Linked DNA regions of Homo sapiens: region 2 is linked to region 1. The links come from fine-mapping of genetic effects on gene expression. Tissue or cell type: whole blood. Region 1 holds a variant in brackets; the other region holds the start of a gene. All regions are shown on one strand. Distances are from middle to middle.

Region 1 (8,101 bases):
GCAAGATGAAAAGGGTTCTGGAGATGGATGGTGGTGAGGGTTGCATGACGATGTCAATGTACTTGACATGACTGAACTGTACACGTAAAATGGTTAAGATGGAAACGTTTATATCTTCTCACAACTAAAAATTGTTAATACTTTATTTTTGTTTTTGTTTTTGAGACAGAGGCTGGAGTGCAGTGGTGGGATCTTGGCTCACTGCAACCTCCGCCTCCTCCCGGGTTCAAGTGATTCTCATGCCTCAGCCTCCTGAGTAGCTGGGATTATAAGCGTGCACCACCACACAGGGCAGATGTTTGTATTTTTGGTAAAGACAGGGTTTCGCCATGTTGGCCAGGCTGGTCTCAAACTCCTGGCCTCAGGTGATCCACCCTTCTTGGCCTCCCAAAGTGATAGGATTACAGGCGGGAGCCACCAGGCCTGGCTCTTATTGGTATTTTCTAATGAAAACTCTTCCTGAAGATAAGATTAGCAAGACTCACACAAGGAAGAGTTCAGCAGGCAGAGCTCCAGTCATCCTTGACCCCTGGCATAATGTTTTACTGACTCTGTCATTTTTTTTGAATTTACCCTAACCTAAAATGACCACTTCTGAATTTCTTCCATGAGCATTGTCCAAATACACATGGTGGGTTTTGTCCCTTTATACACAGTTGAGAGCAGAACTGACCCCTTCCCTTTTCTTCTGAATTATAGGGTCTGGGCTTCTAGGCCAAGACAAGCTGACACTTTGCCTGGATGCTTCTTTAATTCAGAAGGCCCTGGAGTGCTGAGGCACACAATGAGCACCGCTGGGATTAGGGTCACCAACTCGTCCTGGTTTGCAGGAGACTTTCTCAATGTCAACACTGGAAGTCCCACATTCCTTCCAGGAATCCCTCAGCTCAATGCAAACTCAGCTCACAGGACTGGTCACCCTATTAGTAGTCCTAAATCTTAGGGGACCAAACTGGGGGGAAAGTAGGGGAAGGAGCAAGAAAAAGAGTAGAAAAATCAGAAAGCTGCACACGGTGTATATGACTTTTGATGGTGCTCAAGGTTACCATGGATTTCTGATTCTTGCTTTGAGTTTACTGTGATTATAATGATGTGCTTAATTACCACCAGAATTATCAGTGTAATCACAAAAACCAACAAATGTAAACACATGTCTCCAGCAACATGCTAGTTTATTGCAAGTATTATGTCATTTCTTTCTAAGTATAATCTTCTAAGGTAAATACTATTATTAATCCTATGGTAAGAAGTCCCACTAAAGATGTAACTTACTCTTTCTCAGGTCTAAAGACAAAGACGCCAGAATGTCACCCTGACCATCCTTGAGAGGATAAACTGCCAGGCACAGTGGCTCAAGCCAGTAATCTCAGCACTTTGGGAGGCCGAGGCGGGAGGAGATCAGGAGTTCAAGACAAGCCTGGCCAAAATGATGGCACCCCGTCTCTACTAAAAATACAAAAATTAGCCAGGTGTGGTGGTGCACACCTGTATTCCCAGCTACTGAGGCACGAGAATCGCTTGAGCCCGGGAGGCAGAGTTGCGCTGAGCCCATCATGCCACTGCACTCCAGCTGGGTGGCTGAGCAAGATTCTCTCTCAAAAATAATAAGAAAGAGGATAAAATTTTGGAGTATTAAAGGCCACTCTTCCTCTGGAGATAATCAAGATACCTGCAATTTAAGCGTGAGCTGGTTGCTTTAATGTTCAGAAAGAATATGATCAAAATCATTTAGGGGTGGGGCCTCCTCCTATAGACAATGAGGCAGCTACCCTTAGAAGCTCTATCATACTGGAAAAGAGATATGAGACCCTTCCTGCTTTCAGAATCAATGAAGCCAGGCGTGGTGACTCACGCCTGTACTCCCAGCACATTGGGAGGCCAAGGTGGGCAGATCACCTGAGGTCAGGAGTTTGAGACCAGCCTGGCCAACATGATGAAACCCTGTCTCTACTAATAACACAAAAATTAGCCGGGTGTGGTGGCAGACACCTGTAATCCCAGCTACTCTAGAGGTTGAGAAGGGAAAATTGCTTGAAGCCGGGAAGCAGAAGTTGCAGTGAGCCGAGATTGCGCCACTGCACTCCAGCCTGGGAGACAGAGCGAGACTCTGTCTCCAAAAAAAATAAAAAGAAAAGAAAAAAAAGAATCAATGAGAAGGGGCTGCCTGCCTGACCACTGGTTGTGTGGATCCTTCGGGAAGGAAAGCGAACAGAGGTTCCAAGTCTACAAGGGAAACAGCCCAGCCTACTCTGAAGAGCTTTGCGGGACGGCTCATCCAAACTACTGAGCTCTAAGAACTGGAACCCTGGAAACCCCAGCAAGAGGACACCCGCTGCTGGACCAGGCCCCGAAGAAGCAGATCATCCTCCCTCAGAGATCCACAGCAGGTAGGAACCCAGATCTGCAGACCCGCTTGGTTTGAGGGTACTGTGTGGGACCATCTGTCCACACTGACACCCTGTGGCAGTGAGAAGCAAAGGCAGCAGCCGGTTGAGCCTCCAGGATCTCCCTGCTGGAACTAGAAAGTCCAAGTGGCCCCCTTCTTCCCTCTTTTTTTGGTTTTGTCTTGTTTTTTGTTTGTTTGCTTTTGTTTTTGTTTTCTTCAAGATGGGGTGTCACTCTGTTGCCCAGGCTGGAGTGCAATGGCACGATCTCGGCTCACTGCAACTCTGCCTCCCAGGTTCAAGCGATTCTCCTGCCTCAGCCTCCCCAGTAGCTGGGATTACAGGTGCACACCGGCATGCCTGGCTCATTTTTCCCTTCCTTTTTGGATTCGCTGTGCTTCAAGGCACTGAGGCCATGAGGCAGGGTTTGCAGATACAAGATAACTATAGCCTTGATGTGGCTGATCCTGACACCGAAATGTCTGTGGATCCCTGCATGGGGCAGCTCTATACTCCTGTCTCTTAAACCTGCTTCTTAACTTACTTCCCCAAATGCTCAATTCAGGGAAGGTGGATGATTTATATTAGACTCACATGATGAGAGAGCAGTAGCTCCACCTAGTGGAAACATTGAGGTTGAAAAGGTCATGTTCCGGGATGATGCTATTTTACAAAGTCAAGATATTTCGTGTCCCTCCAGGAAGCCTTCCTTGATCCGAGTTATGCTTTCTCTTAACAATCTGTTTTCCCAGTCATAGGAGTTCATGCTCAAATGTAATGAACTTTTTTGTTCATTACATACTTGTTTGTCTTGCTTTCCTAATAAATTTGTGGAAGCCAGGGACAATGTTTTGTTCACCACTGTATCCCCACTGCCTTGTATGTGGTGAAACGAAAAGCTTATTATTTTTTTTCTTTTTTCTTTTTTTGGAGACGGACTCTTGCTCTGTCCCCAGGCTGGAGTGCAGCAGAGCGATCTCGGCTCACTGCAAGCTCTGCCTCCCGGGTTCACGCCATTCTCCTGACTCAGCCTCCCGAGTAGCTGGGACTACAGGTGTCCACCACCATGCCCAGCTAATTTTTTTGTATTTTTAGTAGAGACGGGGTTTCACCGTGTTAGCCAGGCTGGTCTCGATCTCCTAACCTTGTGATCCGCCCC[C/G]CTTGGCCTCCGAAAGTGCTGGGATTACAGGCATGAGCCACCGTGCCTGGCCTTCCAAAGGGTTATTTTTATACTTAATCTATAACACCAGACTTAGGGGAGGTCTGGGAAGAATGGAAAAACATTTTCCCTCTGCTGTCTGATACCATGGTTTTTTCTAGCTAGTATCTGCAATTTGGAAGGCTATGGACCTCTCTCTATCTGGAAGTCTGAACTTTAGTTTTTGTTTTTGTTTCCTTTGTTTTGTTTTTGAGACAGGGTCTGGCTCTGTCGCCCAGGCTGGAGTGCAGTGCATGATCTCAACTTGCTGCAACCCTCCATCTCCTGTGCTCAAGTGATCCTCCCACCTCAGACTCTCAAGTAGCTGGGACTACAGGCACGTGCCAGTATACCTGGCCTAGTTTTGTATTTTTTGTAGAAATGGGGTTTTGCCATGTTGCCCAGGCTATTCGCAAACTCCGGGGCTCAAGTGATTCACCCGCCTCAGCCTCCCAAAGTGCTGGGATTACAGGCGTGAGCCACTGCCCCCGGCCTGAATTTCAGTTTTGAAAGCAGGTCAAATAGGCTGCTGCCCTGAGCTAATGCACCCCCTGCCCTGAGCTGGTTGTTTATGCTATCAACACGGTATTTTTTCCTTAGAAATTGTACTTAAAGTTATAAAATGCAGCCAAGAGCGGTGGCTCACGCCAGTAATACCAGCACTTTAGGAGGCCAAGGTGGGTGGATCGCGAGGTCAGGACTTCAAGACTAGCCTAGTCAAGATGGTGAAACCCTGTCTCTACTAAAAATACAAAAAATTAGCTGGTCATGGCGGTGGGTGCCTGTAATCCCAGCTACTCGGGAGGCTGAGGCAGAGAATTGCTTGAAACTGGGAGGTGGAGGTTGAAGTGAGCCGAAATCGCGCCACTGCACTCCAGCCTGGGCAACAGAGTGAGACTCCATCTAAAAAAAAAAAAAGAAAAAGTTATAAAATGCAACCATTTGACATAATAAGAGCTTTCAGCGGCCAGGCACAGTGGCTCACGCCTGTAATCCAGCCACTTTGGGAGGCCCAGGTGGGCGAATCAAGTCAGGAGATCAAGACCATCCTGGCTAACACAGTGAAACCCTGTCTCTGCTAAAAATACAAAAAATTAGCCCGGCATGGTGGCATGTGCCTGTAGTCCCAGCTACTTGGGAGGCTGAGACAGGAGAATGGTGTGAACCCAGGAGGCGGAGCTTGCAGTGAGCCGAGATCGTGCCACGGCACTCCAGCCTGGGCGACAGAGCAAGACTCTGTCTTAAAATAAATAAATAAATAAATAAATAAATAAATAAGAGGTTTCAGCAATGACACAGAAGGGAAGGGAACTGCATTTGGACATCATAAAACCACTTTTATTTTTACCATAGCAACATTCCAGTGAACATTTCTTGACTGATTTGGGAGAAAAGATCTGGTTTGGTGATTCCTCACGCCTTCTCTGAGGGTGAATATACTCTTTCCCAAGGACAGGGAAGGAAGCAGAATCATAAAATCATATGAACATTTTCACAAGAGGATTCTTCTTGAAGCTTCAAGGAAATTGCTTACAGACAGAAGAAAATATGTCCTTATTGATGAAAAGGGAGAGTAAACATTGCAACTCTAACCTAGACACCCACATGGGTACAAAAAAAAAACTGACAAATGCGAACTCACAGTTGATCACTCTATGAAAAGGAATTCAGAGATGTTTGGAGCTCTTAACCTATGAGGCCAATTTCATGGAAGAACTCTACCTTCTACTTCAGAGACAGAACACTGGGCTAGATAGGATGCTTGTCTGGCCCAAAGTGGAATTTCTTACCATCTGTATACTCCCCCAAGACCCACAACAGATGGTTACTGAGTTGAAGCTTGCCACTGATCCTTAATGATGTCAACAAGCTCAGCTCTGGGAGCTGGCCCTCCAGAAGCCCAGGTCAGGGGAGCAAGGGAAAGTGGAGATGGGAACAGAGCTCTGATTCCTAGCCCCATATTTGATACTTACTCCCTTCAAAGTCCTGTCCCTGGACTACAAATTTAGTTCCCAGTTAGTAATCAGAAAACCATGAAATATGAGTTGCATTTCTAAGATGTGCCTGACTTTAGTATGATATTTAAGAGAAAAGGGCAGTGGAAACCATAAAGAAACAGCAGGATCTTTTTTTTGTATCTAAGAGTGGACTGATGAAGCACCTGGCAAGGAGCAAGAGGCCTTCTTACAAATCAAACATTGAGACTGAGATTCTTAATGACTAGAGTGAGCTCTAAAGAGAAAGGTGGCTGGGCGCGGTGGCTCACACCTGTAATCCCAGCACTTTGGGAGGCCAAGGTGGCCGGATCACTTGAGGTCAGGAGTTTGAGACCAGCCCAGCCAACATGGTGAAACCCCATCTCTACGAAAAGTACAAAAATTAGACAGGCATGGTGGTGTGCACCTGTAATCCCAGCTGCCAGGGAGGCTGAGGCAGGAGAATCACCTGAACCCGGGAGGCTGCAGTTGCAGTGAGCCAGGATCGCATCATTGCACTCCAGCCTAGGCGACAACAGCAAGACTCCATCTCAAAAAAAAAAAAAAAGAAAAAGAAAAAGAAAAGAAAAGAGAGAGAGAGAGAGAATGGTGAGCTTGTGGACATATTGGACACACAGGACATGGGGCATGGGGGCCTGAAACACCGTTTTACAGGACAGACGTACACAAAGGGGAATGCAGCCTGCCATTGTGTTTCTTCCTTTCTCCTCTATCCCTTCTTCCCTCCCTGGGAAACCACAGTAGCAGAAGTCTCATTCAATCAAACAGTTGTCAATTATATGAGTTGTACTTTTCTCTTCCTGAACAGCAAACTGGCTTTCCTCCTCTTTGTCCTCCTCTTTCTGCCTATAGAGCAATTTCCTCCTGTCCACTTTGCAGGGCCGATAGCTCAAATACAGTGCTATGGTGATGACACCCACTCCAAGGGCAACGGTAATAATGACAAAGAGGGTAGAGCTTATTCCTTCATCCAGTCCTGCCCAAGCACAGAAGATAGAGTTAGGAAAGTCTGAGAGTACAAGGATCACCCACCCCAGCCCACCAGGCCCACTTCTGAGTCTCATTCTTCCCAACCTAGTAGAATCTTTCTTATTTTCATGCTTAGATAAGAATCCCAAACTCCTGAGGGGTTTCCATCCTGGGCCTGGCAGCAGGGCAGCAAAGGTTACCTTGAACAATGACAGCAATGTCTTTGCTGACAGAGCCCAGCTGGTTAGTGGCTGTGTAGCGGTAGGTTCCAGTGTGGTTCTAGGTTGCCTTCTGTGGCACTTCAAGGTCAAAGACCACCCCATTCCAGGTACACACCAAGGCTGGAGCTGGGTTTCCCTTTGGGACGCAGGCGAGCGTGTGTTCCATCCCTTCCAGCCAGGTCTGTTTGCCAGGGCAACTGGATTCCTCTAACTGTGGCTTGCCTGCAAAAACAGTTTCCCAAAGAGCTGAGTTCAGTGCACCACACTCCCTCCCTACCTTCACCCCCTGCTCCCTCTCCTCCCCTCACCCAAATGCTGTCCCCTCCACCCAACAGCTTTCCTTCCCAAGGGAGCACTAGCAGCTCCCTGCTTTGAGCCAACTCTTCTTTCCCACCTTCTCTATCGGTAGGGAGTCCCAGATGAAACCTAGGGTGTTTTTTTTGTTCGTTTGTTTGTTTTGAGATGGAGTCTTGCTCTGTCGCCAAGCTGGAGTATGTACAGTGGCGCGATCTCAGCTCACTGTAACCTCCACCTCCCAGGTTCAAGCGATTCTCCTGCCTCAGTTTCCAGAGTAGCTGGGACTACAGGCATGTGCCCCCATGCCCAGCTAATTTTTGTATCTGTAGTAGAGATGGTGTTTCACCATGTTGGCCAGGATGGTCTCGATCTCTTGACCTCATGATCCGCCCGCCTTGACCTTCCAAAGTGTTGGGATTACAGGCGTGAGTCACCAGGCCCCGCCAAAACCTAGGGTGTTTTTACGGATTCAGACTACATGATAACCCTGCTCTGTCCATGGTGGCCCTGGGGCCCCTGCTTCCCATCTTTGCTTCTCAGTGGGTAAGGAGCTAGGTAGTGGTGAACTCAGAGATGAGGATTTTTTCTTTTCTTTTTTTTTTTTTTTTTTTTTTGAGACGAAGTCTCGCTTTGTCATCCAGGCTAGAATGCAGTGGCGTGATCTCAGCTCACTGCCACCTCCGCCTCCCAGGTTTCAAGCAATTCTCCTGCCTCAGCCTCCTGAGTAGCTGGAATTACAGGCACCCACGATCATGCCTGGCTAATATTTGTATTTTTAGTAGAGACAGGGTTTCATCATGTTGGTCAGGCTGCTCTTGAACTCCTGACCGCTAGCCATCCACCCGCCTCAGCCTCCCAAAGTGCTGGGATTACAGGCGTAAGCCACCGCACCTGGCCTATTTTCTCTACTCTTCAAAATAGAAATGTGTATATGGAATTTTTGGAAATTTCCCTTTTCAGCATAAACTCCCACTATCACTTCCTTTGTTCTCCTCGGCCATCGACCCTTAATTAATATTGCCTGATCACTTTAAC
Region 2 (8,101 bases), 38 kb after region 1:
CCTGAGCAGAGAAAGCAAGTGGGGATCAGCTAAACCTCTTCCTCAGCCTGCGTGGCACCCAGGCCTTCCCTGGGCCCATCCCAAGGATGCTACCACCTTACCTTGATGTTCTTGGTGGCCTCAAAGCCGTCGAGCTGGTTGAGCAACTCCAGCATCGTGCGCTGCACTTCACTGTCCCCTCCAGAACCCCCCTCCAGCCGCGAGGAGCCGATGGAGTCGATTTCGTCCATGAAGATGATAGATGGAGCATGTTCCCGTGCCATGACAAACAGCTCCCTCACCATTCTTGCCCCTGTGTGGAGGCCGAGCTGGTGTTAGGGAGCTTATTAGCTTATTAGCTCTCTAACCCCCTACCCCTACCTCTTGCTTCTCACATTGCTAGCCATGGTTACCTTCCCCTATGAATTTCTGTACCAGTTCAGAGCCAGAGACACGAATAAAGGTACAGTCCGTATGATGAGCCACAGCCCGGGCCAACAGTGTCTTCCCAGTGCCTGGAGGTCCATACAGCAGCACTCCCTACAGGGGAACAGCAGGACTCAGGGCAGAAAGCTACACCCCTCATTTCATTCAGTGAACATTTACCGAGTGCTGGGTCCCTTGCTAGATGTTAGGGATACAAAAAAAAAAAAGGAACATCAAGGTCCCTTCTATCCAAACCACCTCACCGCCCTAGGAACACTTCCCCAGCCACTCTTTTCAGGGGGAGGGCCAGCCCAAGCAAGATGCAGCCTATCCCGGTGCCTCCCCAACCCCTGCAGTAGGGCTGGCTGGGGCAGGAGGAGTAAGTACAGCTTGGCCCTCTCAGAGAAGCCCTGCTCCTCACCTTGGGCTGAGCAATGCCCAGTGCTTCGAAGAGCTCAGGATGCTTAACAGGCAGCTCGATCACTTCTTTGATCTCCTTGATCTGTTTGTCCAGTCCACCAATCATCTCATAAGTTGAATCTGGTACTTTCTCCACCATCATCAGTGACACTAATGGGTCTACCTTGTTGGGCAGGATCTTGTGCAGAGTGTAGCTGTCATTCCTTAGAGCCACCCGGCAATTGGGTGTCACCTGGGTGAAGGGGGCGAGTTTCAGAAGTGGTACAGTAAGAGCTGACCCCACCACCACCACCACCTCACCTGCTACACTCACATCATTGATGTCAATGTTTTTGTCCACGTCTACAACAAATTTACCTTCAGGATGTACCTAAAGAAACAAGGGCTCATGACCTTCCTTGACAGCCACCAAATCACTAATCCTACCCAGGAAGACCTATGAGAATCCCACAATACCTTGACAGAACACAGAACCCTGTCTCCCGAGGCTACACACAAAGGGGTGGGAATGCAGTGGAGACCGAGCTGGTCCCTGGGGTCATGCTGCTTTTACCTTGACCAACACTTTCTTCTTATCCATGGCCCGGACTACTTCCCCCACATAGGAGCCCTGCTCCTGCAGCAGCTGTAGCTCCTCCCGCAATAGGCGAACTAGATGGCAAACAGACACAGTGGTCACCTAGCTACTCCTTTGGAGTCTCCAGGACCCAATTCTACGTGCATGAGCTAAGCATCACTCTTATTAAAGGAAGGCCAAAGGTCAAAATTCATGTATTTAAGGAGGCTACAATAGGGCTCAGGAAAAAGAGATGCATGTGAAACTACTAGATGATGACAGGGAGAAAACAGTAAGCACTGCTGTGAAGACACAGTGCAGGGAGATAAGGACAGACCTCAGACAAACTGCCCACATGCGGCTTCCCATCTTTCTCCACTCACCTTTAGCATTTAGTTCGTTCCTCTGTGCCTGCAGCCTCCGGAGGTTTTGGCTCTTATCATTCACAATCAGCTGTGGCAGACAAGAGACAAATTCCATTATTCAAGGGCAGGAGACAGGAGGAGGTAGGATCTTGGCCAAGACCTCACAGGTCTGAATGAGCTGAGGGAAGGGCACAGGGCACCTGCATGTTGTTTCAGATTCTCCAGTATGATCCTAATGACCCTGCCCTGTCCTTCAAGAGTCCCTCTGGACCTTACAGCAGCCATCAAAGAAGGCTGCTTGTCCAATACTGGTCCAGGAGTAACAGAATCTAATGGAGAAAAGTTACAGCTGGCTCATGTAACACCAAATTTCTTGCAGGAAGGCAACAACACCTGGTGGAAAGATTGTTAGGTGAGAAACCTGAGTTCTAGCCCAGCCGCTGTCAATCAAAAGCAAAGTAAAGGTAAGACAATCTATTTTTAAAAATCTAGATCTGTTACCAAACGGCACATGGGTATAGCATCAGCTACCCTGCTTCAAGACTACTAAGGTGAACGAATAAAAACACATGAAAAAGCATTCAAAAATGGTAAACTAAACATAATACCTGCAAATGCACTTGGAATTCAGAATTGTCTTTTGTGGCTTTCCCCCATCCAATTTATATTACAGTTGACACTTGAACAACGCAGGGGGTTAGGGTGAAATTGAAAATCCATGGACCTGTCCAAAGTTAAACTACTAACAGCCTACCGTAACAGTATAACGTAACACTAACAGACTACTGTTTATGTTGTCTGTAAGGCTTACTACTGGAAGCCATACCTTACTGCTGGAAGCCTTACTGGTAACACAAACATTTGATTAACAACATAAACGGTCCTTTTTCTATGGTTTAGCGCTTTAGGCTAGGGCTCTGGGTTGCCCAATTTCTTTCATTCAGTCTCTATGGAATTAGCATTGTCCAGATCCCTCAATGATGCCCTTCCTCACATTCTCACTTCACCCTCACCCAACCTCTTGGTGATAAATTTCAACTCCTGAGCTTATGTTTCCCTTTTATAAGAATCCTTTTCATTCGGGCTTCTTCCAAAAGGGTTGACCTTTGGCTAGAGGTACCTTTACTATTAAGATTTGACTCGAAGATGTGTAACAAACTGTGAACACTAAGACCCTCAAAGAGATGGGACTGGAGGAGAACAAGAGATTGCTTACTTCTGATACATACACCCTACTAGCTAAGAAACAAACAAGAAAGGAGAAGCAGCAGCTTCTTCCACTGCACTCCCAAAGGAATTAGATGGATTTGTGGAAGTCCGTTTCCATCCCCCATCATCACCCTTCCTAGCTCCCTCTGGAGTCCGTCCTCACCTGGAGTTCTTCAATCTTGGACAGATAATATTGGCGGAGTCCGCTGCCTGCCTTCCCCTCCTCCAGCTCCATCTGAAGACACAGAGTGAGTCTTAAACGACAGGTTAAACATCCGAGGGGGTAAAGCCACTTGCAGGGCACTTTGAATAAGGCTTGACACCAGGTAGCTTTGCGTAGTAGAAAAAGTTTGGACTTCGGAGGCTCAGGATCTGGGTTCTAATCCCTCCCTCCCTTGGAACCCTCCATTTTCCCAGGACTAAAATAAAAGAATGGGAACGCCGCCTACCTCATACGACTTTTAGGAGGACCGAGAGGCGATATGATATAGACGGGGGGCGCTTTGCACTGCGTGAAGTGCTCTACAAGCCCGAGGTGTCAGTACTGACGAAGGAGCCAGCGGAACGGAGCCAAAGGACTGGCGTCCCGTCTCCTGCGACCCGTGGGCCGGCCATTCCCGCGCCCATCGCTTCCCTCACTCACTCCGCTTCTACCGCGTCTTCCTCTCCCAGCCTTGCCCTGACTCACCGAGGGCGGCGCTGACACAGCAGATCCGGTCGCAGGCAGCGTCCAGCATGGACTGGTCCAGGCACCTCCGACCCACCCGACGCTCCTGCCCCGGCCCGCTCTCCACTCAGATCACGCTCGCTCCGCACCCAGCCCCGTAACCTGCCGGGCCGCCACTGCACCCGCCATACCTGCTCTGGTCCGTCAAGCGCCATCTTCTCTCTTCAGCAGAGACCGCCGGCATCCGAGCCGTCTTGGCGCGCAAGCGCGGAAGCGGAGGATTGGGACCTGAAGACCAGGCAGAGAAGAATTCCGGGTCAATGGGCGGGGTGTGCGGCGAGACCACACTAAGGGAACCATGATGGGAGGGGCGGCTACTCGAGTTCAGGGGCTTTGGAAGGGGATGAGGAAGGAGTAGAACTCCTCCTCAGTGTTGCCTCATTGAAACTCTGTTTATAGTTCTTGTGATATGCCTTCCTAGTCTCAACTTTCAACTTACAAAACCCAAGGACAGAGTATTGAGAACAATCTAGGGCCACACTCAAAATGGCGGAAAACCTCGAGCCAGGGACGCAGGGGACGCAAGCGGAAGCGGAAGTAGTTAGCTGCATACTTGTGCGGTTCCAAGTGTGGAGAAAGCGGCTCTGGGTCTAGGTAGTGTGCGGAGAGGGGCGCGGGGTGGAATTGCTGCGGGAAGTGGGAAACTGGAAGTGGGAAACTGGAAGTGGAATCTGGTGCTCCGGAAAGAGACGTTCCCAACTTCTACTTTCTCCCCAGATTGAGGGATACTCCCCCTTTCCACCATGGGCAAGAAGGGCAAAGTTGGCAAGAGCCGACGAGACAAGTTTTATCACTTGGCGAAGGAGACGGGTGAGTCCGGATTCGCTCAGTCTGCGAGCGAGCGAGCGATCTCTGCCCGGTTCGCCTGCTCTTTGCGACCATTATGTACCTCTCCTGCAGAAGGGGTGGTCGGTTGCGAGGCCGGAGAAATCCTACTAGTGAAGCAGTTTGCGCACTTGGTTGTTTTGTCCAGGTTACCGTTCCCGATCTGCTTTCAAGCTGATCCAGCTCAATCGCCGCTTTCAGTTCCTGCAGAAAGCCCGAGCCTTGCTGGACCTGTGTGCTGCGCCAGGGGGATGGTTCGTAACACTCGCCACAGGTTGCTCCTGGTGGCCGCTTTCTGGGTTCTGAGCTGGGATGGCTTCCAGTTTCACTGCGGGAGGGGAACCCGAATCCCGGTCCTCTTGGGGGCCGTTTCCTTTCTTGATTGCAGAGAAAGGGCTTGGAATACGTGCCTATGATATGCTTTGGCCAGTACACGTAACACCAGGGATGAGAGATCAGTTGCCAAGAGGGGGAAAAGGATGGCTCTAGGTTTTTAAATTTCTGTTCCTTTTATAGGCTGCAGGTAGCTGCCAAGTTTATGCCTGTATCCAGCCTTATTGTGGGTGAGTAACGGACAGCTCTCCTTGGTGTTTTAAGGGGTGGGTGTATAAGGTATTTTGTCCTGTATTTCTCTCCTCCCTGCTTGAAGCAACCTTTTAGAATACTCTGACCTGATTTCTTCCAGGAGTGGACCTGGTTCCAATCAAGCCTCTCCCCAATGTGGTGACTCTCCAGCAGGACATCACAACAGAACGTTGTAGGCAGGTAATAGGAGTCTCTCTCTTCCTTCCCCCTTTATACGGAAACATCTACATCCCTGAAATCCTCTAAAGGCAAGTTTTTCCTTTTTACCGTGCTTTGAGCACGTTCTTGCCTGACATCTGTACGACAAGACCTATGGCATTCGTAGTGTCCACTCCAGGCTTTATTTAGAGTCAGGGATAAAGGTGTTTGGAATTGGGAGAAGGGCAGAGATCTTTAGTGAAGTCTTCTCCTGTGAATTCAGTGTCAGACTGTAATCTCCATGAAGGTAGAGACATACTGTTTTTGTTTACTATTGTATCTCCTGTGCCTGGTACTGCATTTGGCCCATGATGGGCACTCAGCAAATGACTAGATGGACAAATGGCTGAACCAGGGCCATTCCAGTGTTTCTGTTTCCATAGTTCCTTTTCTTCTCTTTAGGCCCTGAGGAAGGAGCTGAAGACCTGGAAGGTTGATGTTGTGCTCAATGATGGGGCCCCCAACGTTGGGGCTAGCTGGGTCCATGATGCTTACTCACAAGGTACAGGGAGTGTGGTGCTTGGAGATCAGGTGATGGTGGAGGTGGGCGCATGCCCTCCTGGGCTGCAGAGTGCGTCAACTAATTGTCTCTATCCTACAGCCCATTTGACACTGATGGCTCTACGTTTGGCTTGTGACTTTTTGGCCCGTGGTGGCAGCTTCATCACAAAGGTTTTCCGTTCTCGTGACTATCAGCCTCTGCTATGGATCTTTCAGCAGCTGTTCCGCCGTGTCCAGGCCACCAAGCCCCAAGCCTCTCGCCATGAATCTGCAGAGATCTTTGTAGTCTGCCAAGGTGGGCATCATTTCCTTTCTCTTGATCCAGGCTCCCAACTCCCAAAGCACACTTTTTAATATATCCTGTCATTTTTAGGATTCCTGGCCCCTGACAAGGTTGACAGTAAATTCTTTGACCCCAAATTTGCCTTTAAGGAGGTTGAAGTTCAGGCTAAGACCGTTACTGAATTGGTTACTAAGAAGAAGCCAAAGGTGTGTTTTGGGGAATGGGGTCACTCTTGGGTCCTGGAACTCTAGGGAGGTTGGGCCTGGTGGGTCCTACAGGTACCTTAGAAGGGCCTGACCAAGCTTCTCTCTTTTCCTTCCTAAGGCTGAAGGCTATGCTGAGGGTGACCTCACTCTCTATCACCGTACCTCAGTCACTGACTTCCTCCGAGCTGCCAACCCTGTTGACTTCCTCTCCAAGGCCAGCGAAGTGAGTCTCCAGCCTTGAGGGACATGAGGTAGCCCCAGAAACATGGCCTGAGGATCTCCCCTGACACCTTTCCATCCTCCCAAACAGATCATGGTAGATGATGAAGAGTTGGCACAGCATCCAGCTACCACTGAGGACATACGGGTGTGCTGTCAGGACATCAGAGTGTTGGGGCGCAAGGAGCTCAGGTATGGAGTGGGGTAGGCACGGGGGCCAGGAGCCCTGGAGGCAGGGAAAGGCCATGATGTTGGACCTCTGGGAAGAGGATATTGCTGTGCTAAAGGTTTGGGATGGGGGCCTGAGCCTTTTGATTTATGTAGCCGAAGCCCGAAAGGTGGGTAGTGAGCCTAAAACAGAAGGGGGCGGGGACAAAGAGGGAGATGGCAAGATCAGTAATAGTATCTCTGGGGCAGGTCGCTACTAAACTGGAGAACAAAACTTCGGCGATATGTGGCCAAGAAGCTGAAAGAACAAGCAAAGGCACTGGACATCAGGTGAGGAGAGAACGCAGCGAGGCAGGTGTGGACTGGGTGTCCAGGGGAAAAGTCTGGGAAAATAACCCAACTCTTGGGACTGTTTTGCCAGCCTCAGCTCTGGAGAGGAAGATGAAGGTGATGAGGAGGACTCAACAGCTGGAACCACAAAGCAGCCCTCTAAGGAGGAGGAGGAAGAGGAGGAGGAGGAACAACTGAACCAGACCTTGGCAGAAATGAAGGCCCAGGAGGTGGCGGAATTGAAGAGGTGAAAGGAGCTGGGGTAGAGCTTGGAGTTCCCCAACGCAGGGACTGTGTGAAGATGGGAGAAGAAAATGCAAGGCATGGATAGAAACTTTGGAGCTGGGCCGGTTTTACTCCCTCAATCCACCCCCTCAGGAAGAAAAAGAAGCTGTTGCGTGAGCAGAGAAAGCAGCGGGAGCGTGTGGAGCTGAAGATGGATCTGCCTGGGGTTTCCATTGCAGACGAGGGGGAGACTGGCATGTTCTCCTTGAGCACCATCCGGGGTCACCAGGTGAGGCGGCATTGGGGGTGCAGGTTTAGGAGACAGAAGGATCTGTTTGGGTGTTTGGAGGTGGGGGGTGTTGAATGTCTTTTTAGGTTGCCGAACGATAGGCTGTGGTTGCTGTCTTCACCACAGGGTGCCTTGGTGAGTATAAGGCCACAAAGAAACATAAACCAAAAAGGATGAGTTAGGTAGATAGATGAGTGTGATAGATTTATTTTTTTTTTTTTTGAGACGGAGTCTTGCTCTGTTGCCCAGGCTGGAGTGCAGTGGCACGATCTCGGCCCACTGCAAGCTCCACCTTCCAGGTTCACACCATTCTCCTGCCTCAGCCTCCCGAGTAGCTGGGACAACAGGCGCCTACCACCACGCCTGGCTAATTTTTTGTATTTTTAGTAGAGACGGGGTTTCACCGTGTTAGCCAGGATGGTCTCGACCTCCTGACCTCGTGATCTGCCCACCTCGGCCTCCCAAAGTGCTGGGATTACAGGCGTGAGCCACCGCGCCCGGCTGATAGATTTATTCTTGAAGAACTAGAACATCAGAAAAGAACTTAGGTTATAGTAGATGCTGCCAGGTTACTTGAGTTTCAAGCACAG

Evidence for each region. PIP is the estimated chance that this variant, and not a neighbour inherited with it, causes the effect.
Region 2: it holds the start of PSMC5, and the variant in region 1 is fine-mapped to the expression of PSMC5 in whole blood (TOPMed, PIP 0.93).

What each region holds. Positions count from the first base shown.
Region 1 is chr17:63,861,179-63,869,279 of GRCh38, reverse strand. It overlaps the pseudogene TCAM1P. Among named protein-coding and RNA genes, the nearest start is that of CSH2, 8.4 kb to the left of the region's middle. The variant C/G (reference allele first, on the strand shown) is at 3,544.
Region 2 is chr17:63,823,227-63,831,327 of GRCh38, reverse strand. PSMC5 (proteasome 26S subunit, ATPase 5) reads right to left here and starts at 3,897. Exons shown (of 12, transcript NM_002805.6): 1 at 3,814-3,897; 2 at 3,119-3,190; 3 at 1,765-1,834; 4 at 1,379-1,476; 5 at 1,139-1,195; 6 at 827-1,057; 7 at 393-519; 8 at 102-292; 9 at 1. The coding sequence starts at 3,837. It overlaps FTSJ3 (FtsJ RNA 2'-O-methyltransferase 3), which reads left to right and starts at 3,665. Exons shown (of 21, transcript NM_017647.4): 1 at 3,665-4,276; 2 at 4,400-4,492; 3 at 4,656-4,761; 4 at 5,024-5,070; 5 at 5,193-5,272; 6 at 5,693-5,792; 7 at 5,892-6,086; 8 at 6,165-6,280; 9 at 6,399-6,503; 10 at 6,591-6,691; 11 at 6,917-6,997; 12 at 7,089-7,244; 13 at 7,376-7,511. The coding sequence starts at 4,426. RefSeq lists enhancers at 3,507-3,556, 3,937-4,216, 3,353-4,552.